Regions from separate parts of the Homo sapiens genome. Here all the other regions are reported to be linked to region 2. Evidence: microRNA targets listed by miRTarBase, many of them from high-throughput screens and not tested one by one. Region 2 holds a microRNA gene; each other region holds the end of a gene's coding sequence.

What was found. The annotated mature microRNA hsa-miR-1250-3p reads ACAUUUUCCAGCCCAUUCA and lies in region 2 at 3,379-3,397, shown strand. An mRNA with a match to its seed (bases 2 to 7 or 8) in the 3' UTR can be bound and repressed. Matches are read on the target gene's strand: a 7mer-m8 pairs with bases 2 to 8, a 7mer-A1 pairs with bases 2 to 7 and ends in A, and an 8mer does both.
Region 1: the mRNA of PPP2R1B is a reported target of hsa-miR-1250-3p. Seed matches in the 3' UTR shown: 7mer-A1 at 3,360-3,366.
Region 3: the mRNA of CBR1 is a reported target of hsa-miR-1250-3p. Seed matches in the 3' UTR shown: 7mer-A1 at 5,613-5,619.
Region 4: miRTarBase lists RRAGC as a target of hsa-miR-1250-3p. Seed matches in the 3' UTR shown: 7mer-m8 at 6,270-6,276.

Annotation. Positions count from the first base shown.
Region 1 is chr11:111,735,179-111,742,296 of GRCh38, reverse strand. It overlaps PPP2R1B (protein phosphatase 2 scaffold subunit Abeta), which reads left to right. Exons shown (of 15, transcript NM_002716.5): 14 at 153-244; 15 at 685-4,420. The coding sequence ends at 701. Among named protein-coding and RNA genes, the nearest start is that of PPP2R1B, 28 kb to the left of the region's middle. RefSeq lists an enhancer at 6,617-7,118.
Region 2 is chr17:81,129,507-81,136,624 of GRCh38, reverse strand. MIR1250 (microRNA 1250) reads left to right here and starts at 3,317; the gene lies at 3,317-3,429. AATK (apoptosis associated tyrosine kinase) reads left to right here. Exons shown (of 14, transcript NM_001080395.3): 2 at 2,124-2,257; 3 at 5,420-5,564. It overlaps LOC124904079 (a long non-coding RNA gene), which reads right to left. Exons shown (of 4, transcript XR_007065937.1): 1 at 7,004-7,118; 2 at 1,018-2,229; 3 at 704-868; 4 at 1-579.
Region 3 is chr21:36,071,483-36,078,600 of GRCh38, reverse strand. It overlaps CBR1 (carbonyl reductase 1), which reads right to left. Exons shown (of 3, transcript NM_001757.4): 3 at 5,437-6,155. The coding sequence ends at 5,719. It overlaps CBR1-AS1 (CBR1 antisense RNA 1), which reads left to right. Exons shown (of 4, transcript NR_040084.1): 3 at 3,634-3,720. Among named protein-coding and RNA genes, the nearest start is that of CBR1, 5.0 kb to the right of the region's middle.
Region 4 is chr1:38,833,082-38,840,184 of GRCh38, forward strand. RRAGC (Ras related GTP binding C) reads right to left here. Exons shown (of 7, transcript NM_022157.4): 7 at 5,117-6,623. The coding sequence ends at 6,472. Among named protein-coding and RNA genes, the nearest start is that of RRAGC, 23 kb to the right of the region's middle.

The DNA of each region.
Region 1 (7,118 bases), not on the chromosome of region 2:
TTCTTTAGACATTATTTTGTGTATTTGTCAAGTTTATAAATGTCTTTATTTTTTTACTTTAAATTTTAACAATTACCATTAACCATATACACCAAAAAGGATTTCTATGGCCCATTAGACTGTCTTTCACAGATAATACTTTTGAATGTCAGTGCTTTACAGGGAGAAGTGAAGCCAGTACTACAGAAGTTAGGTCAAGATGAAGACATGGATGTCAAATACTTTGCACAGGAAGCTATAAGTGGTATGTATTTCCTTCTTTTGCCTTGCAGCTTATGCCTTGGTTAACTGGGATTTATCTCTATTATGTGAGAGGTGTTAAGTGGGTAGGATGATAAGTATTATGGGAAACAGGGAGGGTAGTAAGTTCCTGGAATGCTGGTGTCTCTCTGATTAGAACCCTCTTGGCCCACCATTTTCTCATAAGTGAGCAGGCTATTTTTCTTAGTTACATGTAGGACTGGGTAGGAAATACGATTCTCACTGGTAAGAATAGTTTTTCGTTTGGAATTTAACCAGTTTTTAAAGTTTCACTTCTGATTAGCCTGGCTGAGTAAAGACAGTAACCACAGTGAGAAGTTGTTAGTTTGATACGTTTGGATCATTGTTATTGTGCTTAATATTCACATAGATCGTTCGTGAACTTTCTGTACCACTAACCTGATTTTGTTTGGAATTTTCCAGTTCTTGCATTGGCATAATGAGGAGCAGGAGGGAAAAGGCCTTTACTAGATTCTTGTCACAAATTTCTAGTCAATGTGTTCTTAACTGGGTGGAGAAAGAATGGAAAACCTTCAAGATCTCATCCAAGCAAATGGCAACAACTTAGAAGAAATCATTTAGTGACTTAATTCTTTCTAAAGATGAAATGGGATTGTTTTTTACTCGTCTTCCTTGTTAAATCATTATTTAAGCCGTTCTTATTGACCAATTCCTGACACTTGATTGTCTCCTAATGCTTTATCCATCACCACCTGGGCTCCTGCATCCTCACTGTGGAATCAGGCACCAGCCACATAATGTTCCAGACAAAGCCTGGAAGGGTGTGGACCCAGACGTGGAGTGGAGTGATTCTCTTGACGTTTACATATATCTCTGTGTCTCTCCATCATTCCAAAGCTAAATGTACATGTTTAGAATAACTTATTTTATAAACTCTTCGGGAGACATGTTGAGATTTGACCGTAATGAAAGCCACATTTTCCTGAATTATGATGGTCTGCATTAGTCTCATGTGAAAGGGGAATGTGGAAGCTCAGGGTTAATGTAGTGGTTGTTTTGGTTTTTATTTGCTCAATTTTGTCTGTACTCATGTCATTCAGAAACCTGAAGTGTGGCTGCATCTTGCTGCTAATGTGTGATGTTGACGCCTAACTGAATTTGAACAGCTCACCACTGTGCCTACATTTAAAAATACTTCTCTCTCTTTTCTAAAAAGCTTTAACTGTAGTGCCTCCTAATAAGCAGTATGTTTGTTTCATTGTGAGATTGCAGTTCTGTATTTCGAATGAGTCTAAGAACCACAGGGATAATACTGTGCAGATTTCCTGTTCTTTACCTGGCTCTGCTTCCAGCAGTATTGACACCTAGTCCTTGCTGCATTGTACAGTAGCTTTTCAAACTGCAGTTTTATTGCTAAGTTTTTAGTATGGGTGATACTGGAGTCTTATCATTTGAAGTGTTTGCTTTTCTACTTTTACAGTAAAACCTCATTAATTCTGAAATTTAAGATAATGAGTTAAGCTGAAGAGTTTACTGAAGCAAATTAATAGTGAGGAAGCCTATTTGAACTACTTAAACAGTATTAAAGCCCTTTTTAAAAAGCACCTATTTGGGATCATTTGAGGTCAAGAATTCGAGATCAGCCTGACCAACATGGTGAAACCCCATCTCTACTAAAAATACAAAAAAGTTAGCTGGGCGTGGTGGCACACACCTGTAGTCCCAGCTACTCAGGAGGCTGAGGCAGGAGAATTGCTTGAACCTGGGAGGTAGAGGTTGCACTGAGCCGAGATCGCGCCACTGCACTCTAGCCTGGGCCATAGAGCGAGAGTCCATCTCAAAAAAAAACAACTATTTTTCACATAATCAAACTCACCTTGTCTCATGACTTTTGGTTAAGGGGGTTTTCCCATAGTTTATTTTTCTCTCAGTGCATCTTGCTATGAGGTTTGCTTGTTACCCTTTTGGTTTTTGAATTGTTGATTTTGTTCACAACCTCTTTTAAATCTAACAAGTCCTGTTCTGTTTAGTGAAGGCCCAAAGACTCCTCTAAGACTTTGTATATTTGTTACATAAAACCAAGTTTTACTAAATACTTTAAAATTTGTCCTACATTCGAAAAATAGAAATTGTAAATCAGAGGTTATCTGTCTGCATTTTAAACTGCCAAATTACCTTATAGTAAGTTTCTATTTTATGACTTTGGGCCAAGAATTAAGTATTTTCCTAAGCACAAATCTTTTTCTATATTCTCATTTTAATATCTTATGCTATTATTCTGTAAACATTTTAATTTTAGTTTCATGAGTCTTTATTTTTTGTTACCTGCAAGTTATGTTCTTCTTCATTGAATTTCATATTTGAGAGACATTTGTCTTCATGAAGCAGATTTGCACTGGAACCATTGCTTTACTCTGGTTGGAAATGCCATTGTTTTGGGGACAGACTTTTAAAATGCCCTTGTGTCTCCCAGTGAGGAGCCCTAAGCATTGACTTCTCTACCCTAAAACTGTTTGAGAGAGGGAGAGTGGGCCCTGGCTTTCTCAAGCATGGGTCGGGGGTTCAGCGGGGCCTCTGTCTTTTGTGGTGACCCCTCAGGGGTTTCATTGTTTCCTTCTGACTTAAGCAATAGAGAGAGAATTTGTTTTGGTACTCTTCAGAGGAATTGTGCTTTGGCTCATAACTTGGCCATGTTCTCCATGAATTAGTTCTCCTATTTTTTTTTTTAACTACCTTAAACTTAAGGGAAAAGTTCTCCTATCTTGATTTCACTGGAATATAGGCTTTAGGAGCTCTGTAAGGCTGGTATTTTTGTCTGTTTTATCTTCTACTGTATCGCCAGTGCCTGGAACAGTGTCTGGTGCACATAATAGGTGCTCAATAAAAATGTGTTCAATGGATGAATTTCTAAAATATCCTCCAATGTGTGCATGGAACAAATAATCAAAAGAACCAGACTGTGTCTTATTCTCCCACTGACAGAAAGATTTTCCTGCTTTCAGGAAACAAGCTTTATGTGGCCCTTTTCTGGTCCCCTGGCTTAGACTACAGTTCTGTGTGGATTTGTCTGATTGCTTCAGACATGTAATGTTGTTTTTCATCCTTGGCAGCTTACATCAGTTGTTTGTTTGATTAGAAAAATGAAGCAGACACACACACACACACACACACACACACACACACACACACACAAACATATAACCTATGCCAATAAAAATGTCTCAGCAACAGTGGAATTCACCTTGGTGTTTCTCTCTGTAATTTGTGTGGGGTTTACCCCTCACAGGTTTAAGAGACCAGGTCTTGTTTCTCTCTCTGTGCTACCAAGAAGATGTGAACCTGAGGATGCATCTTGTTTCATAAGAAGGAAGGCAGGTGAATATGTGGTTTCTAACGAGGTCTTGTTGAAATAACGGGCTGCCCTCAGCTCACAGAAATACCACAGCTCAGCCACTGTGATGCAGAGCCCCAGGGGTCTTTGCCAGACAACTTGTCCTGACTCAACAGAGACGGCAGCCTGACCTTTGAGCTGGCTTGTCCAGGCATTCAGGTTGCTTGCGTAGACTTCCAGGGAAGCAAGCCTGTCCTTCCTGACCCGGCGGTTAACCTGGTGCACTTTTGTTCCTTTGTTAACTGTTGTGTTGTCACTAAACTGAAAGGCTGGGGCTTGCCCTTAGACGTCACATTGGCTCTGTCCCTGTGGCGATGGCAGGGCAGGGTGGCCAAACAGGTCAGGTGCTTGTTCTGTCCTCTTGCCTTTTACTTAAATTCCTCTGACTTTTAAAAATGGTGACACTCTTATCGTAAAGCTTCTTATTTTTCTCCACTGCTTGGATATGAAACTGTAGAGGGAGAGGCCCTGTTGCCCAGTGTTCTCCTGGTTTAGCAGCTGAGGTGACTGCAGTCTGATGTGATGTAACTGTTTCCCTTTGATTCTCCAGTATTCCTGTTTCCATCCAGTTCCTTACTCTCCTCTTTCCTCTTCCCTCGCATGTCTCCCTCCAGTCCTCTGTACCTAGAATAGTCTCACTGTCCCCCGTTTGCCTCCACGAGCCTGCTGTTTCCAGGAAATTACATAACGTTCAGTTGGGATGGAAATCTTCCGGAGGACGAATAGAGTTTAATTACTCATTGCGTCGGAAAGCCAAGCCATTTCTGTCTCCAGAGTTGTTCTCTTAAACTGATATGAGTTCTGAAAGGAGCCAGGTCTTTCCTGTGGTTGGGGCTCTGGAGACCATCAGTGACCAGGATGTGGGGAACAGCCAGGTGGACACCAAAAGGCCCGATGGGGTGGCGCTTTCCAGGGCCCCGAGGGAAAGGCACCTCAGCACGACCCTGGGCTGCCCCAGCTTTCTCTGCCCAGTGCCCCATATACTTGTAGGCTGCTGCTGGACACCCAACTCTGCTGGCACAACTGAGGGCATCCTGGCTGGGAAGCACAGGTGGGCTTGGGAGGGATGTGCCCTGGTCAGGGACAGTTACAGCGCCACTGTCTGTGTCTCTAGTGGTGGCACAAAGGCTGAGGAAGCTAGAATTTCCTGTGAAGGACAGTGGAGAACCCAGTGTCCCTCGGGCTGACAAGAACCACTTCCCAAGACCCACAGTGCCTGGAGAGGACATGGGGAAGGTAAGTGCCCGGAAGCCTGGGGTCAAGTCCTGCCCTCAGGGCTGCGGGCAGCCAGGGTGGCATGGTGTGCAGGGAGCTGCCACAGGGTAGGCGGAGAAGCAGCACCTCTCACTTTGTCCCCAGGGGAAGAGTCCAATTTTAAGGGCCGGGAGTAGATGGTTAAAGCCTGTTGCTGGCTTACTTCATTCTGGGAATGCTTTCTGAGAGGTGGGTCGCCGGCCAGAGCTGTCACTCTTGTAGCTTGAGGCCCATCTCCTATCACCTCCCAGTCCAACAGCGAGGCCCATACAGAGGACACCAGTGGGGTTTGGTGAAGAATTGCTTGTAAAAAGGGGCTGTTCCCACTTTCCTCACATAATATAGAAGTGACTTGCCATAATTCCTCTCAGTTATTTCCATTCAAGATAAAAATAGTTGCAAGTTTCTCTGTAACAGCTCAGATGTTCTACAAGCCCCATTGGATGCCACTCTGTGTGGAAATGGTGTGAAAAGCCCCAGTTCAGCAGTCAGTGGGTGCCAGCCACTGCCCCAGGGCCATTCATTAGGAGGGCGATTTGTGGCTTACAGATACATTCAGAAAAGGAGAGCAGCAGGGCTTGGCTGCCTCGTGCGGATGCCAGACTGCGTTTAGTTCATGGGGAAAAATCTGACATTCTCACACCCATTCTAGTAGGTTCGCTTAGTGAAAATTCAATGAAGTAACATCAAAAAGGCTGCCTTTTAAGTCACATGGCTTTTCATTTTATGTGAACCGAAACCATGAAAACGTTTTTTGCCTTTTGTTGAGGTCCAGAATCGCAGTCACTCATCTTAGAACATTCTTGCCTTCCTGAGGGGCTGCACACTTGTCCGTGGGCAGCTCCAGCCGTTCCTGCAGTGGCCGCACAGTGAGAGGAAGGGCTGGGTGACCACTGTCCAGTTGGATTCCAGGGGTGGCCAGCCCTTGGAGTCCATGTCGTCTTCACAGAACTGGGCCTCAGGGAGGAGAGCTTGGCTGAAGGAGTGGGAGTGACAGTTACACATTTTTTAGGCCTAAACCACAGACTTCTTTGGGAAGAAAGGGGTTACGTCTTCCTACAAATTCAGAGCCAGCTGCTCATGCCATGAATGCGTGGTATGACCCGATCTGAGTGTGGATCATTGAGGCGGCCCTCCCATGGCTGACCTGCTCAGCTCTGACAGGGCCCGGGCTGCCTCTGCTAGCCGAGGAGTTACTGAGAATAAGTTGCCGTTACTCGAGCCTTGGTCACTGCAGCACCTTGTCAGGCACTTCAAATCTCATGTCATCCTCACCCACCCTAGGTGGTAGGTGCTATCATTGTTTTTTGGTCCCTCATGAATCTCCTCCAACCCCTGGCATGTCTATTTGGGAATCTTTTTTCCAGGAAAGGAGGCCCAGTGGTGCTAGGCCTCTGAGGCTTCAGTTCATTTAACTCAGAAAAATCCCCCGCCCCATGACTCAGGGAGCCTTCCATGCATTTGTTTCACTTAAGGAAAATGACCCGAGGGTGAGATGGAAAGGGAATTGGCTGTTGCCAGGCAGAGCCCTGTGTGTCAGGGGCCAGCAGCCAAGTGAGTGATCCAGGAAGTCATCCAATTGCAACCAGAAATTGTTCTTAACCCCTCACTGTCTAGGGTGCGTAGTGGACTTGCCAATCTGTCCGAATGGGGTGAGCGTGAGCGCGCTGCTGTTGAGAGCCCTGGGAACTGTCAGTTCTCAGCCAGCCTCAGGGCCCTCAGGGAGCCATTGGACATCCCTGGGGCTGGGCCCGCCACTTGAAGAGAAAAGGGAAAGGGCGAGAGCCAGTCTCCCTTGGTGAAGAGCGCCTCCTTGGCACCCTTGAAGTCTGTGGAGGTGCCTCTGTGTTGGATGTCACATGTGTCCACCCAGGCAGGATCTGCCAGGGAGCAGCGAGGGTCACCTCCCACACCTTGCTGCCGCGGGTCCGGCAGCGGCTCACTCCTGGACGGGACACAGGGTGCCCCCGCTGAAGCTGCTGACGGGCCTTGTCAGGCAGGGGTTAACAGGGGATTTGTTTATTGAATCACCAAGTAGCTGTCACATGATTTTAATCAAAACACCATTTCCCTGACAACAGTGATGTCAGTCTTGTTATTGCAGGAAGGAGCAGCTGTGAGGGACATTCAGTCTCCATGCCGAGCCCAGGTTTGGAGACTAAAATCAAGTGAAGCATCCATAAATAATGGCTACAGACACTGCCTGACTGCGCCCACCCTCCTCCTCTTCCTTTTCTCTGCACACAGTCTG
Region 2 (7,118 bases):
TAGAGGGGAGGGGGAACTCACAGCAGGGCTGTGCCCCAGGGCCAGCTGCCTCAGTGCGGGGAAGGACCAGGCATGGGATGGCGTCCTGCTGGGGGGAGCCCAGGGTAGCTGAGGTGGGGTCCTGGAGGTGGGAAGGCTGAGGCCAGCTGCCTCCATTCGGGGGAGGACCAGGGAAGGGATGGGGCCATGGGAGGGGAGCCCAGGGTGGCCGAGGTTGGTTCCGAAGGGGAGGTTGAGGGGGAGGCTGAGGTCGGGCCTCCTGGGGCTGCTCTTTGCCCAGCAGGTGGCCTGTCCAGCCCCAGGGCTCTGCTGGCTCTGAGGACAGGAGGCCAGATCCTGGCCCCAAAAGGCCACAGATAGGTTCCTTCACTCATCCAGTGTGTCCCATGAGGGAAGGGCCCGCCAGGAGAGGGGCCAGGAGGGCATGGGCGAAGGTGTTAGAGGGGTGTGGACTGATGCCAGGCGGGCACCAGATGGAGCCTGGGAGATGGGCACCATGGCAACTTGCAGTTCCGAAGAGCGCTGGCTGCTTTGGAGGGCGGGGCCTGTTGAGTGCCTCGTGAGCCCCTGCCTGTGTTCCTGCCGTTCGGGTATGAGAACACAGCGGGGCTTACCCGGTGTGCAGGGTGTCCTTACACGCATGACACGCACGCCCGCACATCCTGGAAACCTCGCCTGGGATGACATCTGTTCACGGCCCTACCCGTTGGCTCGTCTCCACATGCGGCAGAGCTGGTTTCCTTCCCCGGTGACCCAGGTCTTGCTTTGCTGGCCGCCCCCTGCCTCCTTGTCCCCACGGCCCTGTCTGGTCCTCACTCCAAGCCGTCCTGGTTCCCTCTTCCTCGTGTGTGGGGAACAACCTGGAGACCTGAGCAGGAAGCCTAGGCTGCCCTCACTGTCTTCTAGCTCACGCCACCTCCAGGCAGCCTTCCCAGATGCCCCATTAGCCTGCAGCCCTGGCAGAGCATGCCAGGTGAGGTCAGCTGTGCCACCTCGGGCAGCCCTGCCCACACTGACCCTGTTTCTTGGCTCGTCCAGTGGGGTAGAGATGACAACACCTTTGGGGGTGTGCTGGGCCAGGAGATGGGGTGTTGAGGGGTGTTGGGAGCTGAGAAGTTGCAGGTGCTCAGTGGCAAAAGGCACTGGGGGTGGCCGGAAAATCTCCAGGGCCAAGTGGAGGGCAGCCGGACAGAAAGCTCCTAGGGAAGGGCATGGATTGGAGCTGGGTGCGGTGGGACGGGGCAGGCCCAGGGGATAGAGCCAGCGGGTCAGTGTGCCCTCCCCTGCCCAGGGGACACCAAGGCTGGCCCCCACCATGCCATCCTGTGGGCAGCAGATGGACCGAGCTTCCTCAAAGCCTGGCTCAGCTCAGGTGTCCTGATTTGGAAGCCGGGCTCAGCTCAATACTCCGAAGTTGGGAGGGATGCTGTACTGTCAGTTCCCCTCTGGGATGAGGGGCTCCATGGACCAGCAGCTGCAGAACGGGGTTTCCCCATGGTTCCCAGGACAGAAGCAGCACCAGAGGGGCCTGGCAGTGGGTTTGGCAAGGGGACGGATTCGAGGCAGCAGGTGGCACACGGGAGCCCTGCTGCCTGGCAGAGGCAGCACCACCTTCTCAGGGACAGTGAGGTCCCCGCACCTCAGAGGCTGGAAGGGCCTTGAGCCCCCGCTGTCCAGAGCCTGGTGTGTGGCCAGCAGATAGCAGCCAGCAACATGGTCTCCCGTGTTTGACAGAGTCCATGTTCCCTTCCCAGCCCCAGAGGGGCAAGGTGGGGTGACTGGGATCTGGGAGGGAGATGGGGGTCCCCCTGTAGCCCCTGAGACCCTGACCTCTCAGGGGTATCTGAACCCCAGAATTGGGAACTGGGCAGGCTCTGGTCACTCTGCCAACCCTATGTCCCCCTGGCGAAGCCAGGGTGGTGTCCAGTGGCTGGCTGCAGGACTGCAGGCTCTGGCCACCTCCTCGCCACACTGTGAGGTGTGGGGTCTGGGGTGAGAGGTCAGGGTGCTGAGGCCCAGCCTGGAATGCAGCAAGTCCAGGTGGGGCTGTGGAGCCCAGAGCAGGGGCAGGGGCCTGGCCGGCCCTCAGCCATGGCCACTCTCACCACACTGCTCTCCCGCAGACGGCGCCCCGCTCAGCGAGCTGTCCTGGCCATCCTCCCTCGCCGTGGTGGCTGTGTCTTTCTCCGGGCTCTTCGCCGTCATCGTCCTCATGCTGGCCTGCCTGTGCTGTAAGAAGGGCGGTATCGGGTTCAAGGTGAGGCCTGGGGGCCGCGGGAGCTGTCGTGGGATCCCGCAGGCAAGGCCTGTAGCGTCCACTTGACCCTGAGCTTCCCTCCTTCCTGGGGCCATCAAGGTGGCTGCTGGGTGGCCGTAGTTGCTGTGGGGCCACCTGGGGACCACGTGGACCCTGGCCCAGGGACTCCATAGCTCCTCCTCAGGGACCTGCCCCAGCTTCCTCGACTTTGAGGCCCTCTGTGGGGGGCGTGGTCTGACGCTCCCACTCCAGCCTGGGGTTGGGCCCGAGCACTCACGGAGGCTGAGGACAGCCTTGCAGGGGGCGTCGGGGGCTCTGGAGCTGGTGTGGGAGGGGGCTTGCCTCCCTAGAGGCCCGACTCCTGGTGGAGGAGCTGCCTCTGCAAGGGGCTCTCACGTCCCTCCGAATTCAATCTGCAAAGGGGAGTCCGGGCTGCCCAGACAAGCTTCCCGGCACAGGGACCTTCTTGCCAGTTGGAGTCACCTTGCGCGGGGTATCTTCTGCCTTCTGGAGGGGACGATGTGTGATGCTAGAGCCCAGCCTGCTGGTTAGGGAGCCCCGCCAAGGGTGAGGCCTGGCCTCACTAGGCTGCCCCTCTGGAGGCCAAGGCCCCTGGCCAAGGACAGGTGCCAAGCACTGCTCCTCCCCCTGCAAACCCCCAGCCCACCTCCAGCTGTAACTCTGAGCAGCAGGGAGGGCCAGGCAGAAGGAACCCCGGCCAGCATCGCCTCCCCCTCCCAGAGTCTCCATGGGTCCCATTCCTGCTGATGAGCAAATGACACCCTGGCCTGGACCTCTGGTGGTTCACACGCCCACGGGGGTCAGCCCCACCCCTGGGCCAGAGGTCAGATTCCTACGCCAGGAGAAGTCAGGGAGGGAGGAGGGTGGGAGGAGGCATTCTGCAGCGCGCACAGCACCCTGTCTGTATCTCAGGGTGCCTTCCTACTAAGTGACCCATGACTCAGCTGGCGCCACCCCCATTTGGGAGACAGTCCCAGAGTCCTCCCTGCCCCTGGTATGTCATGACGCAGAATGGGCCAAGGAGCTGGCTCTGCCCACCTGTCCCGCTGGCCTGGCAGGTGACGGTGCTGGATGTGGCCTTTTTGCCTTTTCTAAAGGCCACATTTTCCAGCCCATTCAACCTTCCAGAGCCCTCTGAAGTGGCCACAGGCCCCATCAACCAGTGAGGAGCTGCGTGCCTGGGGGGCAAAGCTGTGGCCCCAGGCTGTGGGGTCTGCACTCCTGCCCAGAGCCCCCACCCTGCTCTGGGATGTACCCCTGACCCGCTGGCACCAGGGGCCAGGCCAGGCCGCGCAGGCGCCTTCCTGGGGATCCCGAGGCCAGAGCCTCAAGGTCTTGGCGGGAGCAGGAGTGGAGGTGGGGCCTGGGTGGGACGAGTGGGGCTATTGTATAAGTGGCCCCTCCTTGGGGCACTGTAAGAACAAGGCCCCAAACAAGGGCTGGCCATAGCTCCTCCTCCTGCGCCCTCCTCACCTCCTTGGGAACATGGTGCCCGGAACATTCCAGCACCAGTGTGCCCCTGGGAAGTCCTGCCTCCACACTGGGCTCCCTCCTGGGATTTGGGGACCTGCGCTGGGCTCCCTGGTGGGGAGCTGTGCTGAGGGAAGGGGCTGGGCAGGCCCCCAATGCTGACCCTGTGCTACCTGATTGCACGCTGTATCGGCAGGACCCGGCTGGCCCCCGGGCAGCAGGTAATGCCTGGAGCCCGGGCCCGACCCCAGGGAGAGACAGCATCTGTGTCCTGGGCCCCTCTACAAAGCCCAGATGGGTGGGGCCAGGCCGGGGCTGGGATTGGAGGGCCCAAGAGGGGGCTTCTGGGGTGGTCTTCTGGGTCCCGGGGAGGGGAAGTTGCCCACGCAGCACCTGCGTCCCCCATCCCTGAGTGGCTGTGTGCTCCGAAAGGGCAGGCTGGGCCTGGCCTGCGGGAATACCGACAGAGCCACCTGCCCCTCTCTTTGCAGCCCAGGGAAGGGAGGCGTCCCCAGGGTCACACGTCGTACTTGAGGAGCCCAGGCCTCCCCTCCCACTGCACCTGCCTGTCCTCGGACTCACCAGCCCGGGTGCTGGCCAGCATCCAGCTGGAAGTCCCTTGACTCCTCTGAGCCTCAGCTTCCCCACCAGGGCACTGGGGGTTGTGAGGAAGGACAGAAAGGCTGTACCAAGTGCTCAGGGATTGGGGCTGTCATTGTGTGCCTGGAGCAATTGCTTTCAGCTGGGCCCAGGACTTTGGAGACTTTGGCTCTCAGCGCAGGAATGTGCCCTGGACTTGGGGGTGGGGTATCCCCTATACAGGTGCAGCCTCTACATTTCAAAATAGCAGCCTGGCAGGGAGTGGCCCAGCCCTAGGCTGCACGGGGCCAGGCTCTTAAGGAGTTCTGGGAGCTCCGGAGGTGGTGTGGCCACCAGGTGAAGGTCCAAGGCTGCTGGGGCAGATGGCGGTGGCAGGTGGGCTGCCCAGGGTAAAGGTGGCCGGTTGGCTCTGGGCTCCCAGACATCCAGGAATGCTCCTTGTCCCGGCAGGGGTGGGGGCACTTAATTGCTTCTCCCACAGGACTGTGGGGCAGGGGGTGATGGAATTCCTGTCCCCGAAGCTGCGCCATGGGAGGGTGGGACCCCAGGCACAGCCCGGGGTGAGGGGCTGCTCGGGATGTGGGTGGCTGAGAGGTGCTGGGGGCTGATTCTGGATGGGCAGGGCCAGCTGGCCTGAGTGCCCTCACCTCTGTCCCTTGGTTCCCTGCCTCTAGACCCTCAGGCCCCAAGGTGGGGCTCAGCCTGGGCTGCCCGCCAGGGAGGGATGGGGGAACTGAGGCCAGGCTGAGGCGCTGGTGCCTACAGCTCATCGCGCCCTTTCTGGAGTCTGAGATGGGTCCTCTTGGCTCTGGGATCTGCCTCTGGCCCCTCATGGAACAACTGAGCCTCTGGTCGGGGGCGTGGGGGTCAGCAAGAGGAGACAGATGGAAGGGCAGTTAGCAGGGGTGCTGGGCCATTGGCCTGCAGGGGCGGTGGCTCCAACTCTGGGCCGAGCACCCCCTCCTGCCCTGCCCTGGGAGCTCGGCCCTGGAAGAAAGGGGCCTTTCCAGGCCCAGCCACACCCTTCCTTGACCTGCGAGAAGCCCCGCTCATGCCCGGCCCGGCCCGCAGGAGTTTGAGAATGCGGAGGGGGACGAGTACGCAGCCGACCTGGCGCAGGGCTCCCCGGCCACGGCAGCACAGAACGGGCCCGACGTGTACGTCCTGCCACTCACGGAGGTCTCCTTGCCCATGGCCAAGCAGCCTGGGCGCTCAGGTGAGGGCTGGGTGGGGAGATGGGGTGGCCTCCCTCCGGGGCCCAGGTGCTGGGCGTTGGGTGTGATCTGGGGAGACCGGAAGACTCAGCTCTGGAGTGGGGGCAGCACAGGGCTGGGAGTGGCCTGTGGGGTAGACGCAGTGTGCAGCCCTGGACTCCCTGTGGCTGCGTCACAGGCCGCACTGTGGGGCCAAAGGTGCATGTACCTCTTTCTCCTGGGCCTGGGGGCCGGCCAGGGGTTGGCAGGGTCCAGGACAGCCCTCGGCCTCCAGCCTCCCCTGCCCAAGGGGCTGCTATGCACAGGGACAGGGGTGGGCACGGGGCAGGGGTGGGCACTGGGGCAGGGGTGCGGGCTCTCTGGTCCTGGACATGGCCATGTGCTGGGGGCAGGGGCTCTTCTGCAGTCCAGGGATGCTTGACCCCAGATTCCTGCCCCCTTGAGCGCCAGCCCTTCAGGGACACGGGTTCCATTGTGCATGGCAGGAGGAGGGGCGCTGGTGGGGCCCGTGTGGGCGGGTGGTGAATTAGCCTTTCACTCAGGCTGCGAGGAGGGGCCGAGGGGTGGGGCTGACCCAGGAGTGCAGGTGCAGGCAGGGCCTCAGCCACAGCCTCATCTGCCCCCATCCTAGGGTCCTAGGCCGACCACTCACATGGGGCGGACGTGCTGGGGAGTTTGGGGGTGAATGGCCAGGCTTCAGGACCTCCCAGTTCTGTCTTGGAGCCTAGGTGGTGGGTGCGGGTCCCTCCAGAGCTATCAGATCTCAAGCCCCCTCCCAGGAAGCTTCCAGCCTGAGGCTTCCCCCATCACTGCCCACCCCCAGCTCCTCTGGGAACACAGAGGCAGGAGGGGTATCAGGCCAGTGGGAGGGGCCCCTGCCAGCCCTGTTGGGGCTCTGTTGGCACCAGGGCCTGTTACTGCGGTGCCATGCAGGCCACCTCACCTGCTCTGAGCCGTGCCTGGCTGGACCCTGAGAGCTGGCTATGAACTGTGCCTGGCTGGGCCCTGAGAGCCTAGCCTTCATCGTGGGCTGAGAGGCCCAAGGCACTGGTCTGGGACCTAGAGAGGGCCCCCAGCCCCCAGCTTTGGAGCCAAGGCCTCAACGCCTGTCCTACTCTGCCCCATCTCCTGGAGGACAGGTTCCCAGTTCGGCAGGAATCAGGGCTGGCACTTGAGCTCGAGTACATCTGTGGGCGGGCGCGGAGGACTGCAGCCACCCACTCAGAGCGTGAGGCCCTCGGACCTTCCCGGATGGCTGTGGGGGTCCCTGAGCCCTGTGCTGACCCTGCTGGGAGCTGCCAGGGACCATCCGAGGGGGTACTGCCCTTGGGTCCAGGGGCAGGTGTGTGCCTGGCCCCCGAAGATTCTCAGAGCCACCTCTGGAGGATTGCTGTGGGGACTGGGGTTGGCGAACAGGAGCCCGAAAGAAGGCACTGGTTACCTGTCTCTCTACTTTTGCAGCTCTGGTTTCAGTTTTCTGGGGGAGGAATGTGCTTCTAGGGAGGAGAGAGATTGGGGTGAGGTCAGAAAAGTAGCCCCAGAGGTCAGCGGGGAGA
Region 3 (7,118 bases), not on the chromosome of region 2:
CTCTGTTTTGTAAAAAGACACTTGTCATTGATTTAGGGCCCACCCAGATAATCCAGGATGAGCTCAGCTTGAAATCCTTAATTACATTTGCAAAAATCTTTCTTCCAAAGAAAATATTCATAGATTCTGACACATGGACATATCTTCTTGGCAGCCAGCCTTCAATCTATTACTGTTCCCAAAAATGGGAATTCTGGCATAGATGACTGAAAGTTATAGAATTGTGGTGATTACAGAAAAGTTAGGGACTGACTTTCTGCAATAGCTAGTGTGACCCTAAATCTCCTGTGTTGTCTTTTAGTGTCAGGACTGGGCAGTTCCGAATGGTAAATCCTTGTGAGGGATGGACTTCCTGGGATAGTCCATATCCTAAGAAATGTACCTTGTTCTGCCAAAATTATACTTCACAGGGTATAGACACCTTCTCACCTATATTGGGATTATGGAGATCCGAGTAAGTAGCCCAGCTAATGGAAGGCATGGATTCTGACCCCGTGTCATGAACAACTCCTCTTGTACCTCCTTGTGCCTCCGTGTGTCCCACCAGATGCTGCTTTGTTTGCAGCCAAAGTGCCCAGTCCTGTTTATCTGAGACTAACACCTCGTACACATTATAAGTGGTATTGGGACCTGCGTGTACAGAGACGTCAATTCTCGGAATTGTTGCAGCCTGAAGGTGCCTTATGGCTGCAGGCCGGCATGGTTGCTCTGGGCTGTACAGCAGAGCTAAGTTCTGCATTCCAGTGCTGCAACTCGAGGGGCTGAATGTTCCAGAAAGTTTCCTAATGCCCCCACTCCTGGGTCTACCCTTTCCATGAGCTGTGTATTGGGTCATGCCAAGACACATCCCTCTTTTGATCCTAACAGAGCCAAGCAATGGTTTGCAGGGCTAAGAGGTCGGGCTCTCTGAAAGCAAAACTGGATGGTGATGGGTCAGTAGGGGGCCTGAGACAGGTGACAGTTGAATTAAAACTATTTTGGGAGAATCCCAAAGGGAGGAAAACATGTGCCAAGTAATTTTCTTGGATGTGCACCCATCACCCACTGCAAAATGCAGATGTTTGCTTTATCTTAAGATGCAATGAAATTATTTACACACTAAGTGCTTCTCAGGACATACATCCCCTTTCTTAAGAGAAACTGAAACTTAAGAATTAGAGAAAAAAGATGTCCTGTAATTAGACTTCCAGGCATGGGCAGGCAATCTCTGTGTGGTTCCTAGTATGCCCTCAAATGAGAGAGAATGTTTATGAAGCTCCTACTATGCCGTAAGCCATTTATTAGAATGTTTTATCTAATTGTTACATAACCCGTTTGCTAAAAGTGTCTGCATTTTTGTTTTATCCAAAGTCACAGTTAATATGTAAAATATATGGCATCTCCCCATGAAATGTGTACCCACAAAACAAAGGAATTGTCAAAGGTGTGTCAAGGTATAGACGGGCAATTGGATTCCTTCATTCGTCTTCTTCACTGTAACCCACGTGTTTGATCTGAGTGTGTTTGATTAGCGACTCTGAGATTAGCAGAGAGCCACCATCTCATCATGACTCTGCTTTACTCAAGCAGATCTGGCTGAACTGCCTGTGCCCTGCCACCGAGTCCACTTTCTCTATCAAAGTCAAGTTAATAGCTGGGCACCTGCTGGGTGTGGTTCCCTTTATGCCCCAACCAATCTTTCTTTCTTTCCAAAGAGTATTTGAAACTTCACTTTACAGACATAGAGCTATTCAGGTTTTCCATTTCTTCTTCAGTGAGCTTAGTGTTTTTCTAAATATTAATAAATGTGTACATTTTATGTAAGTTGTTAATTCCAATGATTTGAGGTTGTTAGTAAAATGCTCTTTTTTTTTTTAGACAGTCTTACTCTGTTGCCCAGGCTGGAGTGCAGTGGCATGATCTCGGTTCACTGCAATCTCCACCTGGGTTCAAGCGATTCTCCTGCCTCAGCCTCCAGAGTAGCTGGGATTACAGGTGTCTGCCACAATGTCTGGCTAGTTTTTGTATTTCTAGTAGAGATGGGGTTTCACCCTGTTGGCCCGCTGGGCTTGAACTCCTGACCTCAGGTGATCCACCTGCCTCGGCTTCCCAAAGAGCTGGGATTTTAGGTGTGAGCCACTGTGCCCAACCCCTTATTATCTTCTTATTAATCATAATGATGCTACTTCTCATTCCTGACATTGGTAATCTGTGTCTTTCATTTTTTTTTTCTTTTTCTGATCTCTCTGGCTAGAGGTTTAGCACTTTTTGTTTTTCCTCAAGGAACCGGCTTTTGGCTTCATTGATTTTTTTTTTTACCTTTATTGCTCTCTTCTGATTATACTAATTTTTGTTCTGATCTTTATTTCCTTTCATCTGCTCATTTGGGGTTTCATTTGCTCTTATTCTAGTTTCTTACCATGGAAGCTGAGGTCATTGTTTGAGACAGTTCTTTTCTAGTGTAGGCATTACGTAGTATACATTTCCCTCGAAGTACCGCTTTAGTGCCATCCCACAAACATTGATATGTTGTTTTCAGTTTCATTCAGTTCAAAATACTTTTGAATTTAACTTTCAATATCTTTAAAAAATTTTGTTGTTGTTGTTTTCTTAACTTTTGATATCTTTTCGACTAAGGGTGTTTGAAAGTGTATTTTGTTGGTTTCCAACTATTTGGGGATTTTCTAGCCATCTTACTATTGATTTCTAACTTAATTCCAGTGTGGTCGGAGAATATACTTTGTGTGACTCAACTCCTTAGTTTTAAAAGCTGGGAGAGATATTAAAGCATGTTTTTATGCAATGGTAATCTGAGAGGTGAATTTGGTGAAGGAAAGAAAGGGAATAATTACAAGAACAAAATGTTTGGGAGGGCAATAATGGACGAACCAGGACTCTGGTGGGGGTGCTGCCTGGGAAGCAGTGTGCCTCTTCTTGTAACGGAAAGGGGGGCAGGGTGTGCTGTCTGGTTGCAGGTATGTTGAACGACTCTCCTCAGGGGCATCTATTTCTTTTTTAGGGAACAGATTTGAGGACATCCTCCAGCACGATCAGTCTGGGAGATATGCGGAAAGAATAATCATCTTACAGAGTAGGAGAGTGAATTTACTAGGGGAAAAGACAACACTGGCTAGGAGAATTGCTTGTCTGTTTGGGATTGGGGTGGGAACATAAAAGAGTACAGTCAGCCTCTTGTTTCCTTTCTCCCTAGCAACATCATCTGTTAAGAGCTGCTAGAGCAGGCTGGCATGGTTATTAAGCATGGGGATGGGTGTTTTGCCAGACTCACACAACAGAGTGAAGGGTGCTTGCAAGGCAAGACTCGTAGCATTGAACTATGGCCCTGTTCATTCTTTGAGATATTTTGCATCTCTTTCTTAATTGTAGGTAACAGAGGTGCAAGTGCTGTCCTGTCTAGTGGTGACTGAATTGACGTCCTCCTCCCTGTAAAAACACCAGTTTTGTCGTCATTTGCAATTCAGCTCAACATTTGTTGATTCCATATAATCTGTTAGCTTTTCCTTTTAGCTTTTCCTTTGAACCAGTTATAACATTTCCCTGGTTCCCTTATGAGTAAAATACATTTTTTTGACTATTATTTTTACATCTGTATGACAGTCATGATTTTACCTTTTTCTGAAAATTGTATTTTAGCACCATGTACCTATCACCTGGTATAAGAAAGAAATCCTTAGCAATAAAGACGGAACCACGTATGTCCTCCTCCCCTCACCCTCAGAGGTAAGCAGGTACTTGAATTTGGAACAATGCTTTCTCTAAATCTCTTAAAGAAGTTAGGTGTTATTTTTAAGGTATTAAGGGAAAAATATCTTTGCAATACAGGTACAAATTTCTAAACTAGCACTTGAGAATACCAGTTTTGCTGCAGACGTGATTGTTTTCTGGTGTCTGTGTACAAAAACTAGGAAGAAATGAACAGCCCTACTGAAAGGTGAAACTTGTCAAAGTAAACCTCACTTTTAACCTAAGGGACTAGGCTGGGTGCAGTGGCTCATGTCTGTAATCCCAGTACTTTGGGAGGCCGAGGCGGGTGGATCACTTGAGGCCAGAAGTTCGAGATCAGCTTGGCCAACATGGCGAAACCCTGTCTCTACTAAAAATACAAAAGTTAGCCATGCATGGTGGCGGGCGCCTGTAATCCCAGCTACTCAGGAGGCTGAGGCAGGAGAATCACTTGAACCCAGGAGGCAGAGGTTGCACTGAACCAAGATTGAGACTCTGTCTCAATAAACAAACAAACAAACAAACAAATAAATAAATAAATAAATAAAATAAGGGACTCTTCCGAAGCAGTTTGGAGAATTAAAAAATAAATAGATAAAAATAAAATAAGGGGCCTCTCCTTCTTTTCACGGGTGATCGCTTTTTGTTTCTGTAAGCCTTAATTCTCACTGGTGAAGTGTGAGAGATCACAACACTGTGATTCTGTGGAAGAAACAGAATGGCCTGGGCATTTACTGGGTGTTAGACAGTAAACACACACTTCTCATTACCAGCAGGGACAGCGTCAGGCCCATTTACAGGAACTAATGACAGCAGGGGCTGTTCTCAACACTATTTTTTTTTTTTTTTTTGAGATGAAGTCTCACTCTGTCGCCCAGGCTGGAGTGCAGTAGTGCAATCTTGGCTCACTGCAACCTCCACCCCCTGGGTTCAAGCGATTCTCCTGCCTCAGCCTCCTGAGTAGCTGGGATTACAGGCGCCCACCATCACACCCAGCTAATTTGTTCTCAACACTTTATCTCAATACATATAATCCTATGACTGTCATCCCAATTTGACAGTTGAGGAAACAGAGACAAAGCCAGATACAGTATTCTGCCTGAGGTCAGGAATTCAGTGGGCAGAGCCAGAAGTTTCCACTGCCAACCCCCAGGTTTTGAAAGCTTTCAACAAACAGAAAAGTTGTTTTTTTTTTGCCTTACCTGTTCATCAGTCTTTGTATACTTTGCTGAAACACATGTTGTACACCTGGGGCATATGTTGTACACCTCATGACACTTCATCCCTACATAAATAACACATTCCTATGGAGATCTGATAGGTCCCTCATCAGCTCGGTGTTTCACACAAGTGCACACTCACGTTTCACACATAGCAACTGGTTGTTTTTCCCCAATGACTTTGGCTTTTTTAAAGAGACCAGGTCAGCTGCCTTTGCCGTTGTGGTACTATTTGTTTTCCTAGAGGCTGGGAAGGGCCAGAGCCAGCTATGCTCACAGGCTTACATGCTGTCAGCTTTTGTTACATAATGTGGATTTGGGGAGTTCCAATGCATTGTTTGACCTACAACATTGAAAATATTGACTAACTGGCTCTTTCTTTACTTTCTGGGTTTGCTCACCCCCAAGTTGTACTGTCCCTTCCCTTGACCTTTTAGGTTGATTGTACTTGAGACAAAGCTTATTTAGCATCTAAACAATCTGTACAAATGGACACTTATAAAGAACCATTTATTCATCTGTTGATTTTCATTCATTATTTTCATCAATTACAATTTTTCCTCTCCTGCATCAGAGGAAATCACAAAAGACCTGACAGATTTACGTAGTCAACTGAGTGCGTAGGTTGCTCAATTAGTAGTACATTAGTGAGTGCTAATTGATAAGAGATCATTTTTTTTCTTATATAAGGATATTTATGACATTGTAAATGCCCTTTGGACCAACTCAGGACAAGGTACAAAATGGGGCCCATGGATGGAGCTGTGAGCCCAGCTCACCACTGTTCAACTCTCTTCTCTGAAACAAATTGTCCATGGGGACCCTCAGCATCTGGGGGCAAAAGGGCCAAGTACACAGGGGTCTCTGCACCTTCTTCTGGGCTCTTGGTGGCCTTGGGTCCCGCCATGTCAGTTCTCACCCACCCTGGGCAGCAGGCATTCAGGAGGATCTTGTCCCCTTTCCTCTGCTCACTCAGTTTCCTGGCGTGGATCCTGGACAGAACGGTGACGCCAATCTTCGTCACCCCGTATGCGCTGCTGGGCCAGCCCTCCTTCTGGTGCACTCCCTTCTTTGTATCCTCCACAAACTTGTTCATGAGCCCCACCAGCTCCTCCTCAGTGATGGTCTCACTGCGGAACTTCTGCTGCAGCTCTGGGCTGCAGCTTTTAAGGGCTCTGACGCTCATGATGCTAGATACGTTCACCACTCTCCCTAAGATACACCACAAAGCATTATGTAGAAAGGTGTGCAACAATCCCGTAGAGAGGTGAATGCCAAATTTGCAGGGATTTTGGAGCAGAAAATTTTCATATGAGAGACAGTTACTGGTATGAGTTCTAAGAGGAATACGCATAGAAAGTGTGGTGGTAGTTGCATGAAGAAGTTCATTCCTGCCTTCGAATTTTGGCTGAGTAGAGTCAGGTGAGATTTGGAAGAGCTGCCCTTTGAGGTCCTGGTGAACCAGAGCCTTAGAAGTAGCACAACTTAACAGGACGACAGGACAGGGAAACAGGATAAAAGCTGAGAGTAAGCTGTACATGCAAGTACCCAACTCGAAGCCACACATTTAAATTTTTCTAAAAGTGGCTGCTTAATTGCTGTGTTATTTAATGGGTGGGTTCATCTCCTGTCCCATTACTTAGGGTAACTATCACAGCAGTTTACAACCAAAGACATGTGATAGTCATGTCCAGCACCTTCAGCACGTTGAAGGGGAGTTAAAATGGGCCCAGAGTTAAGCAGCGGCAGATTATGGACATCTCTGTGAACCATGCTAAGGGCTTGGACTTTCCTCCTGAAGGATTTTGGGAGAGGCATGACCATGCAGACAGTACGCAGGATGCTGGGAAAGGAAAAGAGGAAAAGACTCAAGACCAGAGGTGCCTTGTGAGGGTTTGCAATTGTCCAGAGGGACAGGTGAGGGCCTGCTGTAGAGCTGCAATGAGACGGATTCAGGAGGAACTCAGTGGGCACAACTCCTAGGACCTAGTAAATGATTATGAGGGGTGGGGCATGGTGACCTGCAGGATCCTGGTGGGTGGGTGGTGGGGTCTGTGTCCCAAACGACTTAGGGAAAAGGATAGGGATCCTCTGGAAATATCTTAGATTGTGGGGAAAGGCATCAGGAAGAGATGGAAAGGCAGCAAGACAACCATGTGGTTGGGAGCTTAAGGA
Region 4 (7,103 bases), not on the chromosome of region 2:
TTAATTTCATTTCAACAAATAAGAGACATTTCAGTGGTGAGCATTCCTCCCTTTCTACCTGGTTTCCTTCTCACTGCATGAATCATTCTAACTTCTGTTCCAGCTGTCTTCCTTCCATTGACTGACCAAGGCCCTCCCTAAGGCCCAGTTCTGCCTCCCACCCCACCCTGCTCCCACTCAGTATGCCAATTCGATCTCTAGCTCAGCCCTCTTCCCCTTCATCCAGCCTCAACACTCTAGTAGTCCAGAGAACATCTCCATGGAGATCCTGTGGCCCCTGACCCTAATGAGTTTCTTTTTGCCAGACAGCCTGCCTGCCTTTCTCAATTGTCCCGTTCCCATCAATAGACTGCCACAGGGGTCATGTGAGGAACTAGTCCAAGGAGCCTCCGTGCTAGACATCTAGCCAGGAAGAACTACAGTGCAGTAGAAGAAAAGAATCCTCCAAGCATGGAAATGGCCAATAGCTCCCTTTCCAAAGTCAAGACAGATATTCGAGAAATGTTTGGTAGGGTTATAAGCGTTATTTCTCAGTTCATCTTCCAAAGCTGTAGAGGCAGTACATTTTCTGGGAAAAAGCCTCAGTACAGAACATGCCAGCACTGCTTTTCAGAGAAAGATAGGCCCTGTCTGGAGCCTCATTACCTGGAACACAAAGTTTGCATGCCAATTTGCATGGAGATAAGAGAGAGGCCATGGAAAGAAAGGAAGGAATATTCACAATTTGCTAAAATGTGTGTGCCAGCACCTCTTTTTTAAAGAAAAGCAAAAAGAATATTGTAGAAAATTAATATTCCATTTCTCTAAGTCAAGTTCCTGTCTGTTCGGCAGGTTACTTTGTAATAAACCAAATTAATTGTCTCCCACATGCCTTCTAATATTTTATCAGTCCAGGCTGGGTGTGGTGGCTCACGCCTGTAATCCCAGCACTCTGGGAGGCCGAGGCGAGCAGATCACTTGAAGTTAAGAGTTCGAGACCAGCCTGGCCAACATGGTGAAACCCCATCTCTACTAAAAGCACAAAACATTAGCCAGGCCTGGTGGTGCACGCCTGTAATCCCAGCTACTCAGAAGGCTGAGGCAGGAGAACTACTTGAATCCAGGAGGTGGAGGTTGCAGTGAGCCGAGATCACGCCACTGCACTCCAGCCTGGGCAACAGAGTGAGACTCCATCTCAAAACAAAACACACAATAACAAATATATATATTTGATCAGTTCAAAAGATGCATTTTAAAGTGTAAGAATCTTAAAGTGGAAGTTGCAGCACTTTGCGGGCAACACGTTGGTAGTAACTGGCATTTTCAAGTGTGGGGAGGAACAACTAGTTTCCTGCCATTCAGTTCCTCATTATAACAGTCCTTTGCAATTTTCTCAATTATATTTTAAACAGGTCTGAAGATGCACTGGTGTATCTAGTTCTTTTTACACTAAAATTTGTCTTTGCAGAGCAAAGTCACAGCTGGGGATTGTGAAGCAATTACATGGCTCTAGAAGAAAGAAAAACAAGCTGGGAGCAATGACTCACACCTGTAATCCCAGCACTTTGGGAAGCTGAGGCAGTGGAGGATTGCCTGATCCCAGGAGTCTGAGACCAGCCTGGGCAACATGGAGAGACCCTCATCTCTACATTAAAAAGAAAATTAGCCAGGCATGGTGGTGCATGCCTGTAGTCCCAGCTATTCGGGAGGCTGAGGCAGGAGGATCGCTTGAGCCTGGGAGGTTGAGGTCGCAGGGAGCTATGATCGTGCCACTGCACTCCAGCCTGTATGACAGAGCAAGACCTTGTCTCAAAAAAAAAAAAAAAAGGAAAAATAAGTACCCATGGAAGGATAAGGTTCTGCAGCCTTTTCCTTTGCCATATTTTATCTCTCAAGCATAAGTGTGAAATAATTTCAACAAACCTCATTTGACACAAAGAAAAGTGGTGAAAACAGATATTTTAATTCAAATATGTGGCATTTCTTTCCATGGAGTCTTGAAGACCACACACATTTACAACAGATGGATTAGAAGAGGAAGCAAGAAGTTCTGCCTGCTATAGGAATGTGGCTACAGCTGTCTTAAGGCCCTTTTGTAACTAGTAATACATAAAGCAAATGATGTTAATGACCTTCGTTTTACCCAACCCCTCACTAAAAAGTGGAAATCATCAACTGCTCCACTTCCAATAAGATGTCTCAAATCAGTCCTGAATGTTATCCTAGGGAAAATACTTCAGGAATTTTTTGGATCTCTAAGTTAGGTGTGCACTTAGGTGATACGGGCAATACAAACTTTCAGGACAGAGCACACATGCAGAAGCCAGAAAGCAAGAAGCTGTGTTTAGATAATACAACACTGCCACCTAGAGGCCATACACTAAGGACTTGGACACCATCACCAAACAGGCTGAAAAGGTAGACAAGCTGCCTGTGCTTCGCAGCACATCTGGCTTAAATGAGTAAAGATACTGAGGAAATGTTACAGAGTAGTTAAATATGCTTCCTGCTCACTACCTACAAAGACAGGTGTTGAACTAGCCATCCAAGAAACCAGTTTGGTGATGGTTGTATTAAGATACTTGGAAAACAGTGTAAAAATCATACTTCCAATCTCATGAAAACATTTCAAAACTGTGAATTTATTACACACTGATTGAATGAATATGCATTTCTTTAATGTGTCAAATAAACCTAGGAACATGGGATATAAACCAAGGTAAACAGGCTTCCTTATTGCAGGTCTTCTCAGAACCTTTCATATTTGACTGTATGTAGAAAATCTCCAAAGAGAGACTACAGATTGCAAGTTTCCAAAACTTAACTATAGAATCCTTTTGTTGTTGTTGTTGTTTTCTTTCTTTCAAAACACACCAGTGAGCAAACTCGCCCTCCCTACTAGGAAAGGAAGGTCGAGTGGTAGTTTGCGGCTGCAGGTTATGGAATCAAACTGCATGGGTTCCCATTCTAACTCTACCACTTTACAATTGAGCCGTTCTGTATCTATTTCCCCTTCTGTAACATAGGAATATAACACCTACTTCCCAAGGAGTTGTGAAGATTACAAGGTAATACACGTAAACCACCTAAAATAATTAGTGGTGGTTGGCTTTCCCTTCAAGTCCTTCTTGGATGTTATTTGTATCCAAAGTATCCTAATGTACCGTTCCGGGAAGTTACTATTAACAAATAACACTCACCTGGCACGGTGGCTCATGCCTGTAATCCCAGCACTTTGGGAGGCCGAGGCAGGTGGATCACCTGAGGTCGGGAGTTCAAGACCAGCCTGGCCAAAATGGAGAAACCCCATCTCTACCGAAAAAATACAAAATTAGCCGGGTGTGGTGGCGCATGCCTGTAATCCCAGCTACTCAGGAGCCTGAGGCAGGAGAATCGCTTGAATCCGGGAGGTGGATGTTGCGGTGAGCCAAGATTGCGCCATTGCACTCCAGCCGCCTGGGTGACAAGAGCGAAATTTTGTCTCAAAAAAAAAAAAAAAAAAAAAACCTCTCCAGTTATGCCCAGCTGCTGTCCACATTCCCCTTACAGACTATGTTCCTTTGGGACCCCCAAGAGGGACAGGGGGAGCATTTAAACTAACTAGCTTACTTACTAGCTTAGATGGAAAACAGTGGTACTAATAATCTCTTTTGAATAACTGGAAGGGCTTTCAGCATTTGCAAAACAAAGGATAGAGATCCTTACCAAAGTCCAAAATTCACACACAGTGCTTTCTCCAACAATGCTTGATTTTATCTTTTAAATCATTTCTCCACACAGAACTCAAGATGTAGAAGGTAAATTAACTCCCAAATACCTCCAGCATTCTATATTGAGATATTATATACATGCATATATGTATGTGTGTGTATATATGAATGTGAATGGGAGAGGTGGTGGTATGTGAAATAGCTAAAATACCTTGCTGCTTAAGACTTTAAGGTATTTTTTAACCATCTGTCCTAGTTCTCTTTGAAGTAGACTGGTAGAGATCAACATCCACTGGGATGCAAAACATTTCAAGCAAAACCCTGATCATTTTATTCTCCGTTTTCTTCATCCTGAGTTGTCTCCTTTCACATTTACTTTCTATTTCACAATTAAAGACTTCTCCTTAATCACTGACTGAATTTATAATTTTCAGTAACAGGAAAACATAACATTTATTGGGCATCTATGTACCACATGCATCTTGAAATATTCTCTCCATTTAACCAATGGGAGCCTAAGGCCGGAGGCTGCAAGTAAAGGCATGCCACGCTGGGCTGCCAGGCCTGGAGGACAAGCCCTGTTTTGCCACTAATTAGATCTATGATGAGGCTGGCCACCCTTAGTGTACCCTCAACAGTGCCAGTTCACACCTGCTGCTCAGGCATCCTTACTAATGGCATCCCTTCCACTCTCAACAGTATCTGGAATTTAAGTTATACAGTCTTCCTAGCTACAGCCTCAACAAGGCTCCTTATCCCTCTGCACCTGTTTCCAAAATCTGAAAAAGAAGACAGGATTAGATAGTTTCACAAGAGTTTTTTCAAGCTGTTTCTGTGATTTCCATTTCAGAATTAAAACAGCTTCTAAAGTAGTCCAATTACAAAATTTAAAGATCTTTCAATCTGTCTTCCTCCCACTGATAAACTAATGTCTATTTTTCTCTGATTAGTTTAGACCCAACCTGTTTGTATAGACAAACAATTATTTAACTGACATTTAAGAGTGAGTCAATGAGTATGTCAGCAACTGGAGGAAACAGAAAACAAGCTGGAATCGGTACAATTGTTTAAGTGTGTTTTACTTCACTCATCTCCTCACTCCTTCTTAGGTTGGATTAACACATTAATGATGCCAGGACCAGGATACTCCCCACCATGTGTGAGATTTGTGTATATGAAACACCCAACCAAAAACATTTTCACCTGAGCTTAGATTTACTACCCTAGAGCAGAAATGGGCCAGGGGAGATACCTAGACACAAGGCCATGAAATTCCCACATCGGGATAGAACCTGAAGCTCTGACACATAAGAAACATTAACCACAGGAAGCAGCAAAAGAAAAAGAAATGGATGAGAAAACGGCAAAGTGGGACAACCCAACGTTCCGCCACCACCCTCCATACCTCAGGCAAGGAGAAACGCTGATTTTGGAGTAAATACATTTATTGATACCCATTTCATATATAGTTCAATGAAATAATCTATAAATATAAAAAGCATTTTTCTTTTGGATATCACCATGGTCCATGTAAATACTCAAGTCAGAATCACCTGCAGGAAGCACTCCAAGTCACACTGTTAGCTTTACAGACCTGAATATACATATTGCATTAAACAGTGGCACTTATGTACTCAAGTGGTCCAGTGGCTTTGGAATATATGTCTACTGGGCATGTGGAATAGAAATAATGTGTTAGGTTTAAATCAATGGAAAGGGTATCAACCATCAACAAAAGCAACAATTATGAATTCATATCCTAGGCAAAGAAAGTACCACAGTTGACACTTGGTGTCAGAATACTAGAGACAAAGTATGTAAAACAATGCCTGTTGCAGCACCACGTGCTCACTCCAACTCCCAGTGGACAGTCCCCCAATGCCTTAGGGTCACTCGTGGTCAACCAAATGCAATCAAGAAGCTCGATAGCTTAGAATAAAAGGTCTGTAGAGGCTGATATCAAGATTAAAGTAAGCTAAACATTTCAGTGACACAATGAGTTTCTCCCCTAGAAGGGGACTGTGGGAAAACTTTTAATTCCCTTTGTTACACTGAGCATGATCATTTATCTAATGCAGAAGAAAGAACCCAGACATCTGGTACTCAGAACATAGGTGCAAAAATTTTCTTCCATTTCAAAGTTTTTTCAATACTTCCGAGGGAACTAATGCAACCACCGTTGAGCCTTGCTCTCCACCTGATGCAGCATAAAATTTTCTCTCATTTCTTCAATATAGGAATGTCTTGCTGCAGACTATGTGTCTTCCGAGTTAGCAAGCAAATGCATTTAAAAGGTCTTAGTTGTGCAATGTCCAAAACTGAAATCTGAGAGGCAGTGTTAGAACTTAAGCAAGGCAGAATTTTTAGAGTCTACTCAAATGAAAGCCTAAGTGAAGCATATAAAAATTCAGTCTTTTCTATTATTTTCAACTGGAATTGATGGCAACATTCCCTGGTAAGGATGGGTAACTGGTGTTATCTCCAGGTCCAAAATATCCCAACTACTTAAAGGGGACCCAAAAGAGGAGAAACACACACTTGAGTTCTGTGGTCTCCAGAATTTTTTTTTTTTTTTTTTGCCATTTTCAAAAAAGATATAGTAGCTTCAGTTGTACACCACCAGTTGAAGGGGTTTTCATCCAAATGAGAAACTCTACCCCTTGTCTCTAGTGGAACAGGCACCAGATTCCCACAAGCAGCAGCTCCCATGTCCTGTAGCACGTGGCATCCGACCCTGGAGTGAAGAGTAAGCTGGCACAGAGCCCCGACGCTGGGATTCAGACTAGATGGCGTTTCGTGGCGTGCCATTGTGTGTCAGCGCTTTCAGACTGGAGGCACTAGTCTGGTGACCACAGCTCCTGTGAGAAGTCACACCCACCTCAAAAACCTCATGAATAGCTTTTCGGAAACAGTGGAAGTTGTAGTCTATTAAACCTGCAGGAAGGAAAAAGAAAAGAATGCCTCCTGAATTGTCAATTGTGAAATTTTATATTTGGGTTTGCAGCCAAAAATAACTCGGATAAACACTGGTTGGAAATTCTTAAGCCTCCAAACTAGATAGCAACTTCTTCAATCGTAAGAACAGCTGGTCATCGGTCAGGTGCAGTGGCTCACGCCTGTAACCCCAGCACTTTGGGAGGCCGAGGCGGGCAGATCACAAGGTCAGGAGATCAAGACCATCCTGGCTAACACGGTGAAACCCCGTCTCTACTAAAAATACAAAAAAAATTAGCCGGGCATGGTGGCGGGCACCTGTAGTACCAGCTACTCAGGAGGCTGAGGCAAGAGAATGGCGTGAACCTGGGAGGCAAAGCTTGCAGTGAGCCAAGATTGCACCATTGCATTCCAGCCTGGGTGACAGAGCGAGACTCCAACTCAAAAAAAAAAAAAAAAAAAGAACAGCTGGTCATCATA